Regions from separate parts of the Homo sapiens genome. Here regions 1 and 2 are each linked to region 3. The links come from fine-mapping of genetic effects on gene expression. A gene starts in region 3. Each other region holds a variant in brackets. All regions are shown on one strand. Distances are from middle to middle.

Region 1 (7,547 bases), 47 kb before region 3:
AGAGTGAAAAGCTTTGGTGAGTACAAGTCACAAATAAAATGGTGAAATCTTACACAGTTACCTTCTTGAATTTCTCTTCTAGGATCCAAAATCACTTTCTTGGGCATGTGAACATTTTTGCAGCAATTCAAGCTGTAAATTATCTGGCCTACCCAACAGTTCTCATAGCAGATTCCTACAACATGGAGTCCTGAGTACTTTGGGCCCACACAGCGTTTTATATATTAAACACTTAATCTATTTTGAATATAGTTGTAACAGCATTGAGTGTGTGTGGGTCTTAGCTCTGTAGCAGCAAGTATAGCAATACTCCTCCTAGGCAGATCAAGGAATTGAGGTCAATCACTGATCAGCCTGTATTCTTAGAGTGGGATTATACCAAATACTGGATATCAATTTAGAAGTTGCAGGGTTTCATTCTATGCTCACTCCCATTTGCAGTTGTACTTTTGTGTGATATGACAAAATGGCACAGATGGTGTAATGTGTATGATTGTTAATGTTTCTCATTTTTGTCCCTCCACAATTCATTCCCTATAGCATCCATCTCACTTAAGGTTCACTGAGGCACTATAGAATGCATAGAGTGAGATGGAAATGAGATTCCCTGCTGATAAACTGGAAGTAGGCTGAAGGCATACTGGGCCCATAATGGAAAAATCAGAGCTAATGTAGAATATTTTTGAAGAGTCTTATATTTTGTAATTATTGCTTTCTTTGGGGCAAAGGAGAGAAAATTGAATCGAATGACAGAGAGCCATGTTGTTTTGTAGTTTTGTGCAGTACAAAATCAGCAAGCCCCCAGGGCAGCCTGGACTCAACAGACAGCCCTCACTGATCAGATTTCACTCATTTGTGTAGTCAGGTCATTCATGAGTGTTTATTATTCAGGTTTATCTGCCGTTGCCCCCACCCCATCACCTTGCCAACTTTTATCTGTTTCATAAAAGCTGTTCATATATTCTACCTGTTCCGAGTAAATAAGCCCTATGGCAGCACTGGATCAGATGCTGCCTTTTCTCAGAATCTTTTACAGACATATGGAGCAAGTACTACGTGCCTTGCTCTGTGCTAGGCCCTAAAGATACAAGTATCTGCTTGTAAGATAGACAAAAAAATGTCAGAGGAGGGAGGAAAGGGGACAAGGGTTGCAAAACTGTTGGGTACTGTGTTCAGTACCTGGGTGATGGGATCAGTTGTACCTCAAACCTCAGCATCATGAGATATACCCAGGTAGCAAACCTGCACATGTACCCCCTGAATCTAAAATAAAATTGAAAAAAATTATAAAAAACAAAAATTTTTTAAAGATAAAAAATGTGATAACTGCAATAATAGAGATATGTACAAGATATAGAAGTAACACAGAAAGGGGGTTTAGGGTATTTAGCACTTCCTCTCTCTGATAAAGTAATGCCTGAGAAGGGCTTTAAAAGAAGTAGGAATCCCTCAGGCAGATGAGGGGTGACAAGGAGCCCCAAACTGAGAGAACACCTGGAGGGTAGAGTGGGTGGCCGGCTGCAGATAGCTCAATATAGTAAGAGCAAATGGAACACAGGTGGGAAGTAGGACTGGAAAGGGAGGCAAGGCCAGGACTTTCTCCTATGAGGATAAAGCGGAGCCGCTAGGAAATTTAAATAAGGAGGAAATACCAGCTGTTGTTTTTTAATGGCTCTGTAGCCATGTGGAAGATGTATTCGAGGGGATCACATTAGAGGCAGGCAGACCAGTTGGAAAGCTTTTGTGGTTGTCCAGGCAAGTGATGAAGGTAGCAATAGAGATGGAGAAAAGAGGATAATTTGAAAGTTATTTAGAAGAAAAGTCAATGAGAGTTGATAATTAATTAGCCATAGGGAGTGAAGATGCAGGAGAAATCCAAAGTGAATTTGGTTTCTCATCCAGGTAACAAAGCCATTCATCAAGAGAGGGAGTACTGGGAAAGCAGTGAGTTTGGTGGGACGGAGAGTTCAGGTTTGGTTATGTTGAGTTTAAGTAATCTATGGGTTAGGACATATATGGGAAGAAATCAAGTAGGTCATTGTATAGATGAGCCTAAAGCCCAAAGACAAGGGTGCGTTACAAATGTAGACACGGAAGTCAGTAGTGTATATGACATGGTTGAAGCTATGAGCAAGCTTGCGGAAGAGAGTTTGTCAATGAAAAACTAGGATGGAGAGCAGGCACTCCAAACACCAGCACTTCACGGAACCTTTGGGAAAAAGGGTCAATGAAGAAGAATGAGTAACACCATGCCATTCAACGACAGATTAATTCCATAGTCATATCATCCAGTTTTGCACAGGTCCACCTTTCCCCCTATCCCTCTGACTTAGTTGCCTTAAACAGAGTATCTGTTGTTGAGAGAGCATCAAGAGGTATGTCCTCTCACAGGTCCCAGGCTTTGTGATCATTCTGAAAGGTTCAGTAGTGTTAGACAGCACTATCTTCTCCCCAGCTATTTTTAATGGGACTTTACAGTCAAAGCCCCTGATGGTCTACTTTTTAGAAGTTAGCTCTCTAGGTTGAAGTTATTACAAACATAAATGCTTTTTAATGACAAATTTGCCTTAAAGGTATGCAGGGCAGTTGTCATGAGCAACATGGAAAATGAGCCCCTGAACTGAAATGTATGTTTGGAATTAAACTTTTCAGGTTGTGCATGATGAATCATTTTCAAGCTCTGTTTCCCTGCTAAGATTGTAAATGTTGGGTTCTTTGACCCGAGTCTGAGAAGGTCTCAGGAGAGGGTAATTTGGCTATGATTCTGGAAGACAATATGTTGTTTCCCCTCTCCCCCAGTTTTCCAACAGATGATTTATCAGTGGTTAAAGGGTCCCCACCCTCTGTATTTAGGAATCTGGTCAGAATGCTTCAGGATGCTGTGTCTTACAGATGGGAAGTGCTCAGGAGCCATGAGATACTTGTTTGAATGATCAATTGATAATGAATTAATATTTTTCCCTTCTCTGTCCTCACTGATCTTTATTAACCCAGACAAGCAGCCAGTTTCCCTTCAAGCCTCTGTTTTTGCAACTGTAGGTTATTCATGTTGGTGCATATGTATATACCAGCTGACTGGCTGTCCCTTTTGATGTTCCTCTGACTCCTTTGGAGAATAGCTCAAGCGGGCATTTCCTGTGAGCTGGCAAGTGGGCGAGGGTCACTGTGCCCAGGATGGGCTTCTCTTCCTGTCTGTGCTCTTCACACGAGGAGTTCCCTTGGCATGCATTTGGTATTGCCAGCATCATAGAAGCAAAAGCTTATCCAGAAAGAGGCCCTATGGTGTATTTTACAAGAAGATTCAACCTTCAGCAGCCTGGTTTTGTTCTCCTGCTGCACAGTTTATAAGTAAATGACTCCTGGATATTGATATTGCAGCTCCCTCTAGTGTCACTGTGGCTCAGGCTCTCATAGCATTTTTTCTTGCCTTTCAGAAAATATAGACAGCACAGAATCTGCCAAATTCACAGCATTTTAAGTAGATTTTCCCAAACATAGCCAAGGCAAATATGAGGTGATTTTTCCCCTATTAGAAAAGGGAATGTTTAATGAAGATGTAGGACCATTCCAGTTCTAGTTTATTTTTATTCCTATTTTTAAATTTTGGGGGTCCTAGGAGGAGTCCTGAAGTAATCATTTATAGATTAAAGAGTAGCTGGCATGAACAAGTAGAATCTTTCTTGAGATTCCTCCTGCTACTCTTGAGATGCCAGCTACTCTTTATAAAGAAGGAATGTGAATTCTTTTCAAGAAAGATAATGAGAGCCAAGAAGAAGTTACT[T/G]TAATCCCTGGTAGAGAAAATACTGGGTAAGGGCAGAAGGAAAAAATTTGACAGGAAGAACCCTATCCATTTGTTCTGAAAAATTGGTTTGTTTTCTGAAATAACTTTTGAACTAGAAATTTGTTATCTGAAGTCAGGTCATTTTGAGGTTTTTTTTTTAACTAAAGGAGTTATTAATATTTGAAAAATGGCTACAATGTGGTACCTAGAATAATATAATACTCCTACCTAAATTAACATCATTGCAGGCTCCATAATAAAGATTTATGAGATACCCATCAAGCAAAATCCTATTATGGAAATCTCCATTGGTCTGTGTTTGGGTTGTAACTGTTTTCAGGGTTATGAACCAAGTAAAATCACTCTTTTTCCCTCCTCTTTTACACTCTAGTCTTCTCCCTTTTGCCTTTGCTCTTAAAGCTAGAGTGACTCATTATTCTTCAACCTGTCTATGTATTATAAAATGAAGAGATAAGGAAGTGCTGCCCACTCAGGTTATCTATCTAGGGAGACCATTTTCCTTTAGAGCATCCAAAATCGTGAAACAATTTATCATTTCTTCTTCGTAAATCACTTTGATCCTTTATCTCAAGTAGATCTGTGAAGCTAAACATAAATTCTTATTGTAGTATCCACATTCTTGTCTACTCACAAAGCTCTGGAGGACCTTATAAAAATGTGTGTGTCTGTGTGAATGTCTAGATATAATTAGAATATCACAATTAAAATACGAGTCACAATTAGAATACCTTCTCTGCTTCTAATATTAAACTACAAGGTCACAGTTTTTTTTTTCAGCCTGACTTGACATAGTTAAAAACTAGACTTGGCCAAACAATTCTCTCTCATAGCTTTAGGTTGCCCTGTCTTGGATTCTAACATACTGCTGGTGTTAACTTGTTTGTCAGGGCTGACCCTGGCTTGGAGGTATTGAATGTTAGCAGTTTCTTTTTGTCTGTCCTCTATCAAATTTGTGATCAGAGAGCCTCACTGCTGTGGCAGGTGGCTGTCGGGACTCAAAATAAAGATCTATTTTTCTGTTTTGCTCATTGTTTCAAAAAATTAGGATTCTCTAAGATTGCATTAGTTTGACATTTGCAAGTTGTTAACTGCTTTAGTCATTATCAGTGTTGCATTTGTACAACTTTGTAGTTTACAGATGTACGCTATATACTTGATCCCAATTAATCCTCACAACTGCCCTGTGAAGTAGATTTCAGTGTTCTTCATATTGTCTCCTTTAATAGGGAGACTGAGACCCAGAGAAATTAGTGAAATGCTCAAGGTTATACAGCTAGTAGCAAAGCTAAATCCCAGGCCTCCCAAGCCCTTGGAGAGTGTCATTTTTTATAATGTAACAGCTAGAGTTTAACCATCCAATCTGATTCAGCCAAATTTAGTGGTATGAAGAGTTGAGACCCTTGAGCTTTCATTCCAGAAGACAATATAATATTGAGCAAATTTAACTGGCAATGGGGATAATGGTGCCATGTGCTGGATCCAACTCCTATACAACTAAACAATGACTAGTATAGAATTTTTAAATACCTGGTAACACTTAAATGTGAAATATTGCCAACAGTGCAGTTACAAAAATAACAAATGTTATGATTGATGAGCATATAGGATTATATATTATACTGCATATACTAAGACTTCGAGAGCTTTCCAGAGATAATATTTTCTGAAAGATATATGTTTGAACTTGAACTCAGGCTGGGGATGTCTGTTCAAGACCAGAAGTTTGCTTAAAAAAGAAATACTTAGTATATCCTCAAACTGAATTAGATAGGTAGTAGAAGACTTGAAGGAACTTGTGCTGAGGTATAGATAGATAGATAGATAGATAGATAGATAGATAGATAGATAGATAGATAGATTGATTGATTTCCATGGCACTGATCACTGATATCAGGCTTCTTTAACTGTAGTAAATATGATAAACTAGAGAATAAGAGAAAGAGAGAGAGAGATGCTTTTCTCCGCTGAGACTCCCTTGTCTTTGATCTTTTTTTTTTTTTAATCTATTTGAATGGAAATCAGAATGTGCTGCTTCTCAGAACTGGGTCCTATCTGAATCTTCCTAAGAATGTGTACATTTTTCTTTTTAAATAAAAATGACTAGAAATTGCTTTTTTAAGTTTTGCTTTTCTGTATTATTGTAATAAACATGCAGTGTAAACACTACAGAGAGTGCATGTTCCTGGGAGCCTTTGATATTTGTAATGTGGCAGTGTGCCTCTGCTGAGGAGGGAGAGCAGAGAATGACCCTCAGTTAACAGGGCTGTGGAGCAGACTCCAGACCAGACTATTATGATCCATGAACTAGTATTAGAGACTCAGTCTTCCACGGTCAGCCTCTCTATAGCATGAGAATAACCCATTTGGGGGTGGTTTTACTTACTTTTTGCTTTGATAACCCCTTAAGAGTAGAAATAGAATCGTCACAGTATGTAGAACTCTTGGCTAACTTTTTTTGATCAAAAAATTCTTCCTTGATCCATAACCACTTAGTAAAGTTCTTTATGAAAGGTTTTATTGCCTCAATAGTGGGTATTAAATGAGGCCTGTTAAGAGAAAGCATAAAACTCAGAAAACCACCATTGAAATGTTGGCTTTGTTCTGACTAGGTCAGACCAGTGACTCTCTCAACCCTACCAGTGAACCATGAGTGCCAGTGTTGTGACCATCACAATGACATTCATTGAAAAGTTAGGAAAACCCACAGTTTACCTGGCCAATGTTATATCACTCTCCTAAGCTGTGAGATGTTGACACAAAGGGCGATGGGTGATGAAATAAGGTATTTTGGTCTCCATTATGAGTCCATTGGCCTGCTGTATCATTCTGGGCTACAAACCTCTACAGAAGTAAGAGAAAAATTATTTCATTGTTGTTGTTCTGATGAGGTGCAAGGTTATAGTGGAAAGAGCAGGCTTTGGCATTAAACAAACTTAGGTTTGCACACATAACCCCGGGCTTTTTTTCTTTTTTAAATTCTTAGATCCTCAATCTACTGTGAAAGGTTAATGTGAGGACTAAAAATGGTACACTTAAAGTGCTCACCACAGCCTGGCATGTAGACAACCATGAGAAATGGTTACCACCATTATTATTGCCACTTAACATGGGGCAAGCCTTGCGAACAACTTTACTATATGATCGTTTGTCCCTAACCAGTCACCTTCCAGTTAATCTTCCCTGATACATCATAAACCTGGTTATGAGAGTGTGAGTTTTGAATTGTTTTATTATCTTTCAGATCTGTAAGAGCAAAGCTAAAGAATCTCAGCAGTATTATCACAGCTTGGCTGTCCGGCAGAGTCTGGCTGTCCATTTTAACATTCAGCAGGACTGTGGTCATTTCCTTGCTGAAGTCCCTAACCGTCTGCTTCCCTGGGAGGATCCAGATGACCCTGAAAAGGATGAGGATGACATGGAAGAGACTGAAGAAGACGCCAAAGGAGAAACGGATGGGAAAAACCCAAAGCCCTGTTCTGAAGCAGCATCATCCCAGAAAGAGAATCAGGGAGTCATGAGCAAGAAGCAGAGGAGCCACGTTGTGGTCATCACCAGGGAGGTTCCATGTCTTACTGTGGCTGATTTTGTGCGAGACTCTCTGGCCCAGCATGGGAAAAGCCCTGATTTGTATGAGAGGCAGGTGTGTCTGCTGCTCTTACAGCTATGCTCTGGTCTTGAGCACCTCAAACCCTACCATGTCACTCACTGCGATCTACGCCTAGAGAACCTGCTACTTGTCCACTAC
Region 2 (6,323 bases), 30 kb after region 3:
TACCACCACCTCCCCCGAGCATGGTCCCCCCAGTTTTCAATATGAACCATCCTGTGGGTACCCTGTCACAGGCTGGCCCTGAGGTGAGCAATATTTGGACTGTGATGTTGGTTGTTCTCCACTCTTTCTACAGGACAGAACAGGGCCTCTAGAGTGGGAAATGGCTTTGGGAAATATGCCAAGCAGTAGCCTTGTTCTTCAACTTGCCCAAGAGGATAATTCTCCACACCCTTCCTGTACTCAGTCCTCAGTTTGCCTGGTGAGAGAGCAGCCTCCTCCCGTGTGCTCTGCCAGCTGGACCCAGACTGGCCATATTACCAGTGAGACCAAAAAGATGGAGGTGGGGAGGTAGCTCTGAGGTCTGGGAAACCATTCCAGCTCCTGCCAGTTTTAACTTGTGTTTAATTCCTGGCACAGTTGTCCTGGAAATGCCTTTTTCTCTTGCCTGGGAACCACTAGAAGGGGATGTTGTCTGTGTTGGCCAGGGCCATGCAAATTCAACATCTTGTTTCTGCCCTTCCCCCGTGTAGCTGAGGCTAGGTGTTGGCATTACCCAGTGCTTGTTCTTCAGAGAGCAAAAGCACTGCTCGTCATGTCTGAAATTTAGTGAGTGAGCTCACCCACTAGGCTGGTGTTTCCTGCCCGTGGCTGCACATTGGAAGCACCGGGGCACTTTGAGAACTACAGATGCCTGGGTCCCAGAGCATCTAAGGTGCTCTAGGGTGTGTCCAGGACACAGCCCTGGTTGAGGACCACTGCTATATTGTATGGCCTCTTTTAAAAAAGTTAATTTTACTTGGAAATGATTTCAAAGCTACAGAAAAGTTGCAAGAATAAAAACTGTACAAATGAGGCTCAAATATCCTTTGCCCAGATACACCTATTAACATTTCGTCCCATTCTATCTGTCATGTGTGTTCTCAAATGTGTGTGCGTTCTCTCTCCCTTGCGCCAACCCCCTGTCTCTCCCTCTCCCTCCCTCCTGCTGCCTCCACACCTGTCATGGCCTTTTACCCCTAATACCTCAGTGGGTACTTACCAAGAAGAAGATACTCTCTGACGACTGCAGTACAGTTGTCAAATTCCGTCCATCTAACACTGATAGAATACCTCACCACTCATATTCCCATTGGCCGCATCGTGTCCTCTATAGCACCTTTCCCTCTGCGGTGCTGGATCTGGTCTGGATCAGGTAATCAGTTGAGTTGTCATGTCTCCTTGGTCTTCTTTAATCTGGATCATTTCCATAGCTTTGTCTGTGATGATAGGAACAGTTTGTAAGGATACAGTTCGTTTTAGGTGGTGCTGCTTATCTGTGTTTGTCTGCGATTTCCTCGTGATTAGATTTGGTTTTGCATTCCAGGTGGCTGAACCACTACCTGCGTCACGCGGCCTCTCAGGGCATCGCATCTCGAGGCACACAATGCCCATCTGCCCCACAGTGGGGATGTTCGTTTTGATCATCTAGTCCAAGGAGGAGGAAATGTGAACAGGAAGGTTTTAATATAAGTAATTGTTAACTGTGTAGAAGGTAGTTAACTACTAAAAGGGATAAAAAAGAGCTCTAAAGCAGCTTAGCAGAGAACAGCCATCACCCCTAGGGCTAAGGGAAGAGAAAACAGAGAAGGAACGTGGAAACTCAGAGGAGGTTCCCCAAGGTGGAGAGACCTCCGAGGGGTGGCTGTGGTTGCCTGGGATATGCTGCCTGTCCCATGCTGGAGAATCAACTTACTGGAGGTGCCCCCCCGCCAAGCCACAGGAGCAGAGAGCTGTCACGGTGGGGAATGCTGCTGGGACCCGTGCAGGACGAAAGGAGACAGAAGAAAAAGGCCATCTTCCTCCTCTAGCCTTGTTAGCCCCTTCAGAGCCCACTGTGGGTCAGGCTGGCAAAGGGTAAAGGAGTTTTCAGAGCCCCCTCTTCAGTGTGACAAGGAAGGGCAAGGTCAGGGAAATTTGGAGTTAAGAGGCAATAAATGAGTACCTGGCACACCTAGTCGAGGTGTGTCCACTTTCTCCATAGCATGGTTACTGTTTTTTTCTTTTCAACTAATAAGAAATCTCTGGAGACACACTGTCTCCATGTACATACCCTGTTCCTCATGAGACTCTTCCCCATTCCCCGACCAGGTTCAGCAAATGTTGCTGATTCTGGCCTGATTCAATCTTTATGATGACTGCCAAGCGACGTTTCTGCAGCCCAGCACTCCTTCCTCATTTGCCAGTCATCCCTCCCTTCTCCTTCATTTATTTTCATATATCCACTATGGATTCCCATTTTTTCAAAAGTCGACTTCATCATTGACCTTTGGGGATGGGGGAAGAGTTCCTCAGATAGTTCCCGACTTGGCCAG[C/T]GAGAGCCCCTTCGAGTGCCTCCTATATCCCAGCATTTTTGGAAGCACTCCCCTAATTTCTGATCTAACAAGATGTTCCAGGCCCCTGGGCACCAGCCATGGATCAGTGTTTGTCCCAGGAGCCCTGGTCCCTGGCACTAGGTGTGCTTATTGCAGCTGGGGTGTCTTTGCTTCTTGTCCTATAGATGATTGACAGAGCTTGTCTTACTGCCTTTTTTAAGTGTATTTTTTTAAACAAAAGTAATTGGTGCTTTAAAAAATGTGAACAATACAGACATCTGTAAAGAAGTACCCACAGGGAAGCAAGTTCAGCAGTTCAGCAATGGCATGTGTCTTTGCAGACTACATACACAGAAACAGACTTGGTATTGGGTTTTGGTTTTTGCTTTTTGCTAATAGGAATTTTATCCTACAAGATCCTCTTTCTGTCTTCACAACATAGTCTGATGCTCCTTCCATGTCTAACTGTAGGATTTGTCATTCCATTGTGTTAGCTGTGTGGGTACATTAGTACCATGATTAACCAAGGTGTATAAAGGGCAGGCCTGCAGGCTGCCTCCAGTGCCTCCACTACTCGCCACAGTGATCATCTCTATACACACACTGCAGTCATTTACAATTTTTAAAATGAAAACAATTTTTATTGAGATGCAATTCACATGGCATAAAATTAACGATTTTAAAGTAAAGAAGTTGCCTTGAGTACATTCACCATGCTATAGAACCACTGCCTGTATCTAGTTTCAAAGCACTTTCATCACCCTGTGTCATGTATTTTTACATGAACTCCAAGGGTGGATTCTTGTTAGTTGGATTTACTCTGGATGGAAAAGTCATGTTTGGCTGGGTGCAGTGGCTCATGCCTGTAATCATAGCACTTTGGGAGGTCGAGACAGGTGGGTCACTTGAGATCAGGAGTTCAAAACCAGCCTGGCCAACATGGTGAAACCCATCTCTATTAAAAATACAAAAAATTAGCAGGGCCTGGTGGCATGCACCTGTAATCCCAGCTACTTGGGAGGCTGAGGCAGGAGAATCGCTTGAACCGGGAGGCAGAGGTTGCAGTGAGCCGAGATTATGCCACTGCACTCCAGCCTGGGTGACAGAGCAAGACTCTGTCTCAAAAAAAAAAAAAAAAAAAGTCACGTTTAAACATTTTCATGGATACATCTGGTTGCTCTCCAGAAAGCTTATATCAATTTCTATTCCCACCAGCAGTGAATGAAATGTGCATTTCTTTACACCCTTGTTGACACTTTTGGTGTGATCAGCCTTCATCTTTTCTTCCATTCTGAGAGATGAAAATATGTGTTTATTTGACTGTTAGCTAGGGCCAGGATGCTTTTAAAGGTGTTTCAGCCATTTGTATCTTCTGAATTTTGCTTCTGTCCTCTGCCCGGTTTGATTGGTTATTGGGTTTTTTTCTTTCGGATCTTAACAGAGTTTACTTAGGAAACTTTTCTGTGAAGCTTAATGTCTGTAGCTATTGTGAATGCAATGGTTTTCCTAACTTATTTCCGAGTTGGTGGTTGTTGGTGTGTAACAGCACCTGCTTTTTGGGTGCATCCTTGCAGTTCTTGAAAATAACTTGTGTGTTGCACGTGGCTTTCTATTGCAGTGCCTGTGAGATCTGTGAGGTCTCCTGAGGGTGTAACACAGTGACGTGGCAGAAACCTCGTATCTACTGAATGGTGCTGCTGCATTGCTATTTGTGGGGAAGTTGAGTCATACATAAATCCTGCTCCCCTGAGTTTATCCAATGAAGAAAGTAAGACAGATGTAGAAATTATAGGGTAGAAAAGAGACTTGCTGATCTTTTTTTTTTTTTCCCCGAGACAGAGTCTTGCCCTGTCATCCAGGCTGGAGTTCAGTGGCACGATCTTAGCTTACTGCAACCTCCGCCTCCTGGGTTCAAGCAGTTCTGCCTCAGCCTCCCACATAGCTGGGATTACAGGCGCGCACCACCACGCCTGGCTAATTTTTGTATTTTTAGTAGAGACGGGGTTTTACCCTGTTGGTCAGGCTAGTCTCGAACTCCTGACCTCGTGATCCGCCCGCCTCCGCCTCCCAAAGTGCTGGGACTACAGGCGTGAGCCACCGTGCCCGGCCTACTTGCTGATCTTTGTTATCCCACCATCTGGCAGGTAGTGGGCACTATCACCTGAGATAAGTCACTATGGTGCCATAACTGTTTTTCAAACTTTTAAAAATGTTTAGCTGAAGATCCTGTTAGCCAGGGGTTTCTCAGCTCCGGCTGCGTATCAGAATCACCAGGAGAATGTTTCAAATATTTATGCGCAAGCTCAGTTTGCAGGGATTTGGTTTCAGTTTGTCTGAGGTGGGACCCAACCATCAGCATTTGAAAATCTGCTCAGGTGACTCCGTTGAGCAGCTGGGTTGAGAACCACTGCACGTGCAATATGTAAACTCTCCAAGTAGATCTCGAAGTGGAGTGGGTGCCCCCTTTCTCCTCCCACTGGCCCCTAAGAGGGCTCTACTGAGCACAGTTTGATAATCCCGTGAGGGTGCTGAGGGCAGCGAGCCCAGTTGCTGGTGCGACCTTGTCCTGGGCTTGTGTTGGCTCAAAAGCCGGGATGGAGAAATAGGCAGACACCCAGGTAGTCAGACCAAGGCAAGCAGGTGACCCTTATGCTGAGGTTTCTTGGCCTAGGAAAGGCTGTGAGAGTGGTTGGAATTAGGTGTTGGACACCAGTGGCGCGTGCTTCCAGTTTGGCCAAACGTGAGTTGCTGCTTTTTGTCATCATTGCGAAGGATTCACTGACATAACCACAGCTGTCCCAGAGGGTGTGCTGAGCGAGGGGGATTATGCCAAGCGCAAAGCTGCTGTTGAGTGTAGCCAAGATTCAGAGGTTGTGGGTCTTTTCCTTAAAAGTGGTATCCCTTGCTGGTAAGTAATACCTAATCATTGTTTAATTTGAACCTTAGGAGATTTTGCATGGGGGCATATTGCACCCATCTTACTGATGCTGAAACAGGCCCAGAGAAATTGTGACTTGCCTAAGACCACCCAAGAAAGCGTGAGCCTGGATTCAGGCCCTGATGTTGTGATTCAGAGACCATGCTTGTCCTCCTGCTCCTTGCTGTCTTTGAGTGGCCCTCGGTCAGGAAGAGGCTGCAGTTATTTATACACCCAATTACACGCTAACTCCCTCTTTATCTGGCACCGTCTCTGCTGGGAAGGCCATCCATCCATGCAGTTGGTTCCCAGCAGCTGAGGTGGTGCCCAGTGATGGGAGAACGGAGAAAGCTGCAGAAGCAGTGAATCTGACTTGGATTCATTTGTGGGCATTCTCCCCCTGGCATAAATTGTGACCCAAGAGTTGCTTTCAGTTCTATTCTCTGGCCACCCGAATGACTGGAGAACAGACTCTGTTATCTAGCACTTGTTACCCATCACGCTCTGGGGCCCACAGACACTGCGGCACCTGTCAGAGATGATGATAAATATCTAGGCCAAAGGTTTTTTAAAAAATCTTTGCAGTGGAATGGAATGTTCAATCAAGATGACAAGGCATCTTCAAGGAATAAGTAAAGTATTGATACCTTTTTACTCTTTCCTTTCCCTTCCCTGCCCACACATGGCCCCACCCAGTGGTAAGCCTACGCGGCTGTCCCGCCTCTCCCAGCCCTCGCCCAGGCTTTGTTCCCGCACCACTCCCCTCCAGCTCCTCCACCTGGGGAGGAGCCCATCTTCAAGTCTGGGCTCCGAAGTCACTCCTCACCTCCTCACTTTCCCTCTCTTCCCACCCATCTCCCATCCCGTAAGTTACCAAGTCCTGTCCATCTGCTCCCTGTGTTCTTCCAGAGTTGCTCTCCAGCCCAGTCACCACTTCCCAGACAAGCCACCCTCCCCTCTGCTGGATGGCCTGCACCAGCCCCTGGAACCACTCCCCCCACTTACTGCCTCACATCTCAGGGCCTAGAGGGTGGCTGTCTGTCCTCCTGGGCTGA
Region 3 (7,547 bases):
TCACGCCTGTAATCCTAGCACTTTGGGAGGCTGAGGCGGGCGGATCACGAGGTCAGGAGATCAAGACCATCTTGGCTAACACGGTGAAACCCCGTGTCTACTAAAAATACAAAAAATTAGCCGGGCATGGTGGCAGGTGCCTGTAGTCCCAGCTAATCGGGAGGCTGAGGCAGGAGAATGGCGTGAACCTGGGAAGCGGAGCTTGCAGTGAGCCAAGATCGTGCCACTGCACTCCAGCCTGGGCGAGAGAGTGAGACTCCGTCTCAAAAAAAAAAAAAAAAAAAAAATGGAAGGCACAAACCACCACAAGCAGGCATTGCTTTACAATGGAAAGAAAATGAATAAACCTTTTCTTTTTTGGTAAAAGATAGACTCTTTGTGTCATACAACATGGATCAGAGTGAATTTTACTTCACACAGTACGGGTTGAAGAACAGAGTTTATTAGGGCAAGTTACAGGCCAGGGGTCAGTAAGCGAAGTCACAATTGCTCCATCCTCCCATCATCCCCAGACAGGTGTGCCACTGTCAGATGCAGCAAGACAGAGTGGGTCTGTGCTTCCTTGGGAGGGACTTCATGCCCTCAGTTGCTCTCTTAGCAACTTTGTCAGTGGAGGTAAAATCAGACTTCCTGAGCACTGGGCAGTAGGAATTTGGAGTTCCAAGAGTTACCCAGGAAGGCTAATTTTCCAGTAAGAAGGATCCTCTCGGTGGGTAGAAGGGGTCAGTGAGGGAGACTGTGGGTCATAATATCCAAGTCTTGGCCCAGGGAAAAGGATGGGTGGACTATTCATGAAGCTAAGGAACACAGGTAGAGGAGAGGCAGGTTGAGGGGAAATTATGAGTTCAGTTTGGGACCTGCCGGGTCTGGCACACATATAAGTTAACCCCATACAAGGTTATGGTATGGTCCCTGTTATAAACTCTCACAGCAGCCTGAGGGTCTCCTTTGTATTGCTTATCCCAGTTGCAATTAGATAAATAATTTCATAATTAGCGTTGAATCTCCGCTCTGGATTGCAAGCTCCCTGGGGCCATCACACACCCAGGTCTAACCACTATGTTGCTAGAACCACCCCCCACCACGTGGCATAGGGTCAGGCACAGAGTAGGTAACCAATAAATGTGTTGAATCAATAAATGAATCCACCTGGAGCAACACAGCAGGCAGTCGGATTCATGGAAAGGAAATTGAGAGAAAGACCTGGGCTGAAGCTGTAGGTTCAGGAAAGTCCTGCACGTGGATAGCAACGGAATCCAGTGCTCTGGGTGAGCTGGCCCAGGTTGGTTGAGAAAATCAAAAGACCTAAGCCAGAACTCTGGGAGACACCAACATCCAATGGGTGCAAGGAACAGGTGCTGCTGCAAAGGCAGACAGTGAACTAAGAGATGATGGTGTTATGGAAGCTAAGGAAAGGCAGAGTTCTGAGTACGAAGAAGTCAACGGAGCCAAATATGGTTAGGTCTCGGAAACAGTAAACTCCGGTGATTACAAAGCACCTGTGTGCCAGGTACTTTTCTGACAGCTATATGTATATGAATGCACTTAATTCTCACAGCAATCACATGATAATTAGGGAAGTAATGTCATCATCATTTTCTCCCTATGATGGGGATACTGAGGCACAGAGAGAGGACCCAGCTAGGCTACCTGGTCCCCGAGCCTGTGCTCTTAACCATGATATATGCCACCTCAGAGAAGGGGTAGCAGATAAGTCACTGGTAACATTGACAAGAGCGATATCGGTGGCACTGTGGGGGTGATGCCACATGGCAGTGAGTCAAAAAGTGAGGCCAGGCACGATGGCTCACGCCTGTAATCCCAACACTTTGAGAGGCCAAGGCAGGTGGATCATGAGGTCAGGAGTTCAAGACCAGCCTGACCAACATGGTGAAACCCCGTCTCTACTAAAAATACAAAAATTAGCCAGGTGTGGTGGTGGACACCTGTAATTCCAGCTACTCAGGAGGCTGAAGCAGGAGAATCGCTTGAACCTGGGAGGCGGAGGTTGCAGTGAGCGGAGATTGCACCACTGCACTCCAGCCTGGGCGACAGAGCGAGACTACATCTCAACAACAAAAAAAAGTGAGTGGGAAGCAAAAGAGTCAAGGGCAGAAGTCCAGCCCCTTGCTACAAAGAGGGGCCCAGCTGCACCCCCACCACCTGGAGTCTGCATCCTCAGGTGATCTGTGCGCAAGGCAAAGTCTGAGAAGCACTGGATGAGATGACTCTTTTAGGAACTTTGGCTAAGAGAAGAAAGAAAAAGTAAAACATGGTGTTTAAGTGAGAGGCTTTTCTTTTTAGGATAGGAGAGGCATGACCATGCTTGTAAACTCAGAACTGTGGTTTGCAGCCCCAACAGCATATTCGAATCACCTGGTGTGTTTTTGAAAAACACCTGATTCCCTGAGGCTCGCCCCCAGAGAATCTGATGGAGTTTGTCTGTGTGGCCCAGATGATTGTAATGTGGGGGGGGGGGGGGTCTGAGACCCACTCAAGGAGAAGGCACAAGAAGGACTTGATGAGACCTTCACAGGGAAATGAGAAGGGACACGATGAGGATGAAGAAATGCAAAGGGGATGTTTTGGAAAAGGAGGAAAAGCACTCAGAGCAAAGCAGACAGAGAAATTTACAGAGGGCAGAGGCGTCAAGAAGATAGATGTTCAAAGGGAATCATGTTTGAGAGCCCATCATTTTTCTTTCTTTAACTAGGACCTCCATGGTATGGCAAGAATGGCACTTGAAACACTTAGATGGTGTTACTGGTCTGCTCAAAGGCTTCTGCCTGGCGTAGTAGGCTGTTGGTGATCCGGCCTCGCTCACCTCCAGCACACTAGGCTCTCTGTGTTCCCCTTCCTACAGCACAGTGATCATGTTCCGGTCTCTGGGCCTTTGTCCTTGCTGCTCTCATCTTTGGGCTGTTCCCCTCACCTCCCTTGGGTCCCCTCCAATGTTCTCTCCTCAGAGAGGACTCCTCTCATCACTCTATTCCTTTCCTCTGAATTGTTTCCTAACACTACCTCATGTCATATACCCACTTGCCCGTTTGTTTATGGTCTGCCTCCTCTGCCCGAACGAATGTAAGCCATGGAAGGAAGGATACGTCTTGCTCACAGTGGAATATCCACCACCGACAACAGTGAGGCCCAGAGGGGACACGCGGCAAGTTTGATGAGTGAATAAATGGCTGTTGCTGCTGCTTGGTGTAAATGCACAGGATGCTGAGATTAACAGGTACTTCTGAGAGTGCCTGGGAAAGGTGATGAGTGGGGGAGATTGCATGAGAGCGAGCTGATAAAGACCAGTAAATGGAAATCCTTACGGGCGCGGTCAAGGAGGGAGTGCAGGATTATAATGGCAGGAAAGACAGCAAACAGAGGCAGTTTATTGTGTGACTGATGATGTGTTTTTTGCACTAGACCACTTACTATGTGTGGCTCTGGGCGAACTTCTTAACCTTTCTAAGCCTCAATTACCCGATCAGTAAAATGAGGCTGATAACCATAGTGCCTTCCATCCAGGGTTGTGGTGGGGGTTAAATGAACTAATGGAGCCTGGCACCGGGTGAGCACCCAATAATTAATTGCTATGACGGATTCAAGATTGGGGGAAGAATGTGAAATGTTGCAATGCAAAGAGATGTTTCTGTAATCGTTGCGAATCTTGGTCCAAAACTTACTACCCTGGAATAGAACTTGTTCCCAACCACTCACCCACACAAACATGTCTCTGCCTTGCTAACGCCATCACCAGCCTTTTCTCCTCTCTGACTCTTCTGAGGTCTAGCCCAGCGCCTGGTACAATAAGTTTCTCCATAAGTATTTGTTGTTTTTCTTTGCACTTCTCACCAACAGTGCTGCCAAGATTTTAACCTGGTCAGGAGAATCTGGTCAGGCAGAGATTAGTGTCTCCAACCTTCCTAGGGGAGAATGGGCTAGGTAGAAAGATAGCACTCAGAGGGCTCTGAATCATCTATAAGGGTGGCATAGTCATAGGAGGAGAGTGGGTTTGGTCCACCAGAACCTCCCTAGGGAGCCATCTGCGTCCAAGGGCGGCCAGAGGCCAAGAAAAGGCGCTGAGGCCTTGGCTCCTTTAAGAGGCGTGGCCTCACTGCAGCCTCCGCAGAGGCGATTGGCTGAAGCTACCGGCCGCGTGGGGCGGGACTCGGTTGCCAGGGAGCGGCGCGGGAGCCCTGAGGGGACTGCGGCGGCTGCGCGGAGGAGCGAGGCACTTGCTGGGGTCGGGGCTGCGCGACGGCGCAGGGGCTGCGGGGAGCGCCGCGCAGGCCGTGCAGTTCCTAGCGAGGAGGCGCCGCCGCCATTGCCGCTCTCTCGGTGAGCGCAGCCCCGCTCTCCGGGCCGGGCCTTCGCGGGCCACCGGCGCCATGGGCCAGTGCGGCATCACCTCCTCCAAGACCGTGCTGGTCTTTCTCAACCTCATCTTCTGGGTGAGCGGGGCCGGGCAGAGCGAGGGGCCGGCGGCGGGGCCGGGCGAGGCCGCGGCGGAGGCGCCCGTGGGGGCCGGGCTTGGGCCTGGGCGGGCGCGCGGGGGCCGCGCGCGGGCCCTCAGGCGGCTGAGGCGAGGGGAGGGCCGGGTGTGAGGCCGCTTCGCGAGGTCCCTGCCGGACCAAGCCGGGAGCCTGGGCGCGGAGGACAGCGAGGGGAGGCCTTCAGGGACTCCACGGCCTCCAGCCGGCGCCTCCGCGCTCGGCCCACGCGGGCTGGCTCCGTGCCAGGCGCCCCAGTCTCCCCCCCCCGGAGTCGCCGGCTGGACGGAGAGCGCTTATTGCAGACTGTAGCAGGACGTCGGGCTCGAAATAGGATCTTCGCCAGAGGCTCAGGTTCCGCGCTCTTTGTCGGGGCCTCGCAGACGAGTGGCCGTCCCGAGGCGGGCAGATCCGCGGGGACGCTGCGGAGCCGGGGCGGGGGTTCCACTTAACGCCCTTTGTGTGTGGAGAACCGGCTGACTGTCACCAGCCCAGAAAATGAAGGGTTTCAACTCGAGGAGCCAAATAATCCATTGACCAAGAACATCGGTCTATTTGTTTTGGTCATGGGGGTGACCAAACTGTGAGATTATAACTCTTGGTTAAATATATGATGGAGATGTCACAAGATTTTGAAAGTGATGAGTTCACTTTCAATAAAAGGTGGCTTATGAATTTTTAAGGGGTACACCCTCTTTGAAAGGAATGTTTATGTCATCTTAGTTTGGGTCCTTATCTCATCAGGGACTTTTATAGTAACCTAAGTTGTTCCTATCCGTCTCTCCACCCTCCAGCCCATCTGGACTTTGCACCCGGATAAATCTTTTAAAACGTTTCCTCTATCACATCACTTGATCTGAAAATAAGGAAAACAGAAGCTTCAGCGGTAGAATAAGGTTCAACTCCTTCCCCTGGTCTTGGAGCAGAAGTCCTCAGTCTGGTCCCAAATCACCTTGCCTCTCTGAACTTGTCATTTCCTTAAACACTTGAGTGCCCTGGACAGATTGCTCTGTCCACAGTCGCCAGAGCACTCCTTGAACATTCCGGTTAACCATACTGTGCCTCTTCCTCCTCCCCATTCAGCTCCTCCCTCCCACGCATACGCACACCTGTTCTGGAAAGAATCCTTTCCTCCTCCCCCGACCCCCCAACAAGGGATAAAACTTCATATCCTGACAGCTGTCTCATAAAAGGATGGTTATATGTTAAAAAGCACTTGCTACACACTTGTATTGCCAGAGTCCTTCGGGGCGTTTGTGTGTGAAGAGTCCTAACTGGGAGGTAGTAGCTGTTGGCAAACACCCAGGCGACATTGGCATTTCCGTGATTTCTTCTTTTCCAATTAGAGCAGTGTTTCTTATACTTTAATTTGAGTTACAGGCTTATTTATTTATTTTATTTTATTTTTTCAGTTTCTTGAGTTTATTGTGAAGAATGAAATGCACATATAGAACCAGTTCCATTAGCAAAAGTCGTATCAGTCTTCTCTTTGTAGATGTGGCATGATTTGTGAATCTGACCATTATAAGGGCATCTTTTGCTAATTTAATACGTATCTATATACCTACTGCTACTTATGCATCCATAACATTTTTTATTCCATAAAGAGAAATGTATTCTACAATGATTAAGTCATTAATTCTCATAGCATCTCGTTATAAACCAGGAGTCAGCAATCTCTGGCCCAAGAGCACAAAACGGTTAGCTACCTGTTTTTCTACAACCTGAGAGCCCAGAATAATATTTACATTTCTAAATGACTGGAAAACAAATGAAAAGAAGAATACTATTTCTTGGCATGTAGAAATTATATGACGTTCTCCTACCATTCGACCCAGCAATCCCACTACTGGGTACATACCCAAAGGAATATAAATCATTCTGTTATAAAGACACTTGCACGCATATATTCACTGCAGCACCGTTCACAATAGCAAAAACATGGAACCAACCCAAATGGCCATCAGTGGTAGACTGGACAAAGAAAATGCGGCACATATACACCATGGAACACCACGCAGCCACAAAAAAGAATGAGATCATGTCCTTTACAGGGACATGGATGGAGCAGGAAGCCATCATCCTCAACAAACTGATGCAGGAACAGAAAACCAAGCACCGTGTGTTCTCACTTATTTTTTATTTATCTTTTTTAAGAGTTACAGGCTTTTTTAAAAGGAAAAATAATTTTCAGGGGTCCCCAAATGAGAAACACGTTGTCAGCTAGTAAGCTACCTAAGAGGTAAAGATGTGGCTTTGTACTCTTTACAGTTCCTTGTGAATTTATGGCCATAACTATTTGATTTTGAAGAATATTAGGTGAATTCTAGGTTATTCAAGCTCAGGGACTGGAATTGTTCATGTAACAAAATATTGGAAATACAGTAACCATTTTCTTTAAATTAGATTTTTATTTACTCTAAAATATCAGTTCTAAGTGACTCCTCTGAATCTTTGGATATTGTGTAAATATATGTACTGTTATTCCAGTGAAGAAAGTTATTTTGAACTTCAGTGGTGCTTTTCATAGCGGGTTATTGCCAAGACTGAAGTGGTAATGTTTAGTAAAAATATGCTTTATCTTGGTTAGTAGGGTAGTAAAGTTTTTGTGAGCTGTGATAAGGAAGTTAAGCAGATACGCTGGGGGCAAATGTGTCACAGTGCAATGTAGCTAATGAGGAAACAGCATTAGGTATGTCTCCCAAGAAAGTATTAGTTTGTGGACTAACTGTGGGAATCTGATGATGATGGGTAATGGCAACTAACATTTGAGTTACTATACCCCAGGCACTGTGCTAAACACTTTACATGGCATATCCTCACAGCTTTCCCATCTAGCAGGGAATATTAGGTACATTTTAGAGGAGAACATTAAGGTTGACTGAGCCAAAGTAGCACACCCAAGGTGTGATACAGCCTGCGTTCAAACCCAGGTTGTCCCATACTCTAGAGACTGTGATGTTAGGACAAAGTGTGATTTCAGAAGATTTGTAAAGAGAAGAAAGTTGTTAGAATCACTTCTCTAAAGCATGCTGATTTTGAGATTGCTAAAATTAGAAA

The links. PIP is the estimated chance that this variant, and not a neighbour inherited with it, causes the effect.
Region 1: its variant is fine-mapped to the expression of TSPAN3 in whole blood (GTEx, PIP 0.97).
Region 2: its variant is fine-mapped to the expression of TSPAN3 in whole blood (TOPMed, PIP above 0.99).

The regions. Positions count from the first base shown.
Region 1 is chr15:77,114,816-77,122,362 of GRCh38, reverse strand. It overlaps PEAK1 (pseudopodium enriched atypical kinase 1), which reads left to right. Exons shown (of 10, transcript NM_001385026.1): 10 at 7,044-7,547. Among named protein-coding and RNA genes, the nearest start is that of TSPAN3, 47 kb to the right of the region's middle. The variant T/G (reference allele first, on the strand shown) is at 3,782.
Region 2 is chr15:77,038,554-77,044,876 of GRCh38, reverse strand. TSPAN3 (tetraspanin 3) reads left to right here. Exons shown (of 7, transcript NM_005724.6): 7 at 1-3,473. Among named protein-coding and RNA genes, the nearest start is that of TSPAN3, 29 kb to the left of the region's middle. RefSeq lists an enhancer at 540-1,739. The variant C/T (reference allele first, on the strand shown) is at 2,352.
Region 3 is chr15:77,067,793-77,075,339 of GRCh38, reverse strand. It overlaps TSPAN3 (tetraspanin 3), which reads left to right and starts at 4,231. Exons shown (of 7, transcript NM_005724.6): 1 at 4,231-4,448. The coding sequence starts at 4,386. RefSeq lists an enhancer at 3,865-3,924 and silencers at 4,065-4,764, 7,386-7,475.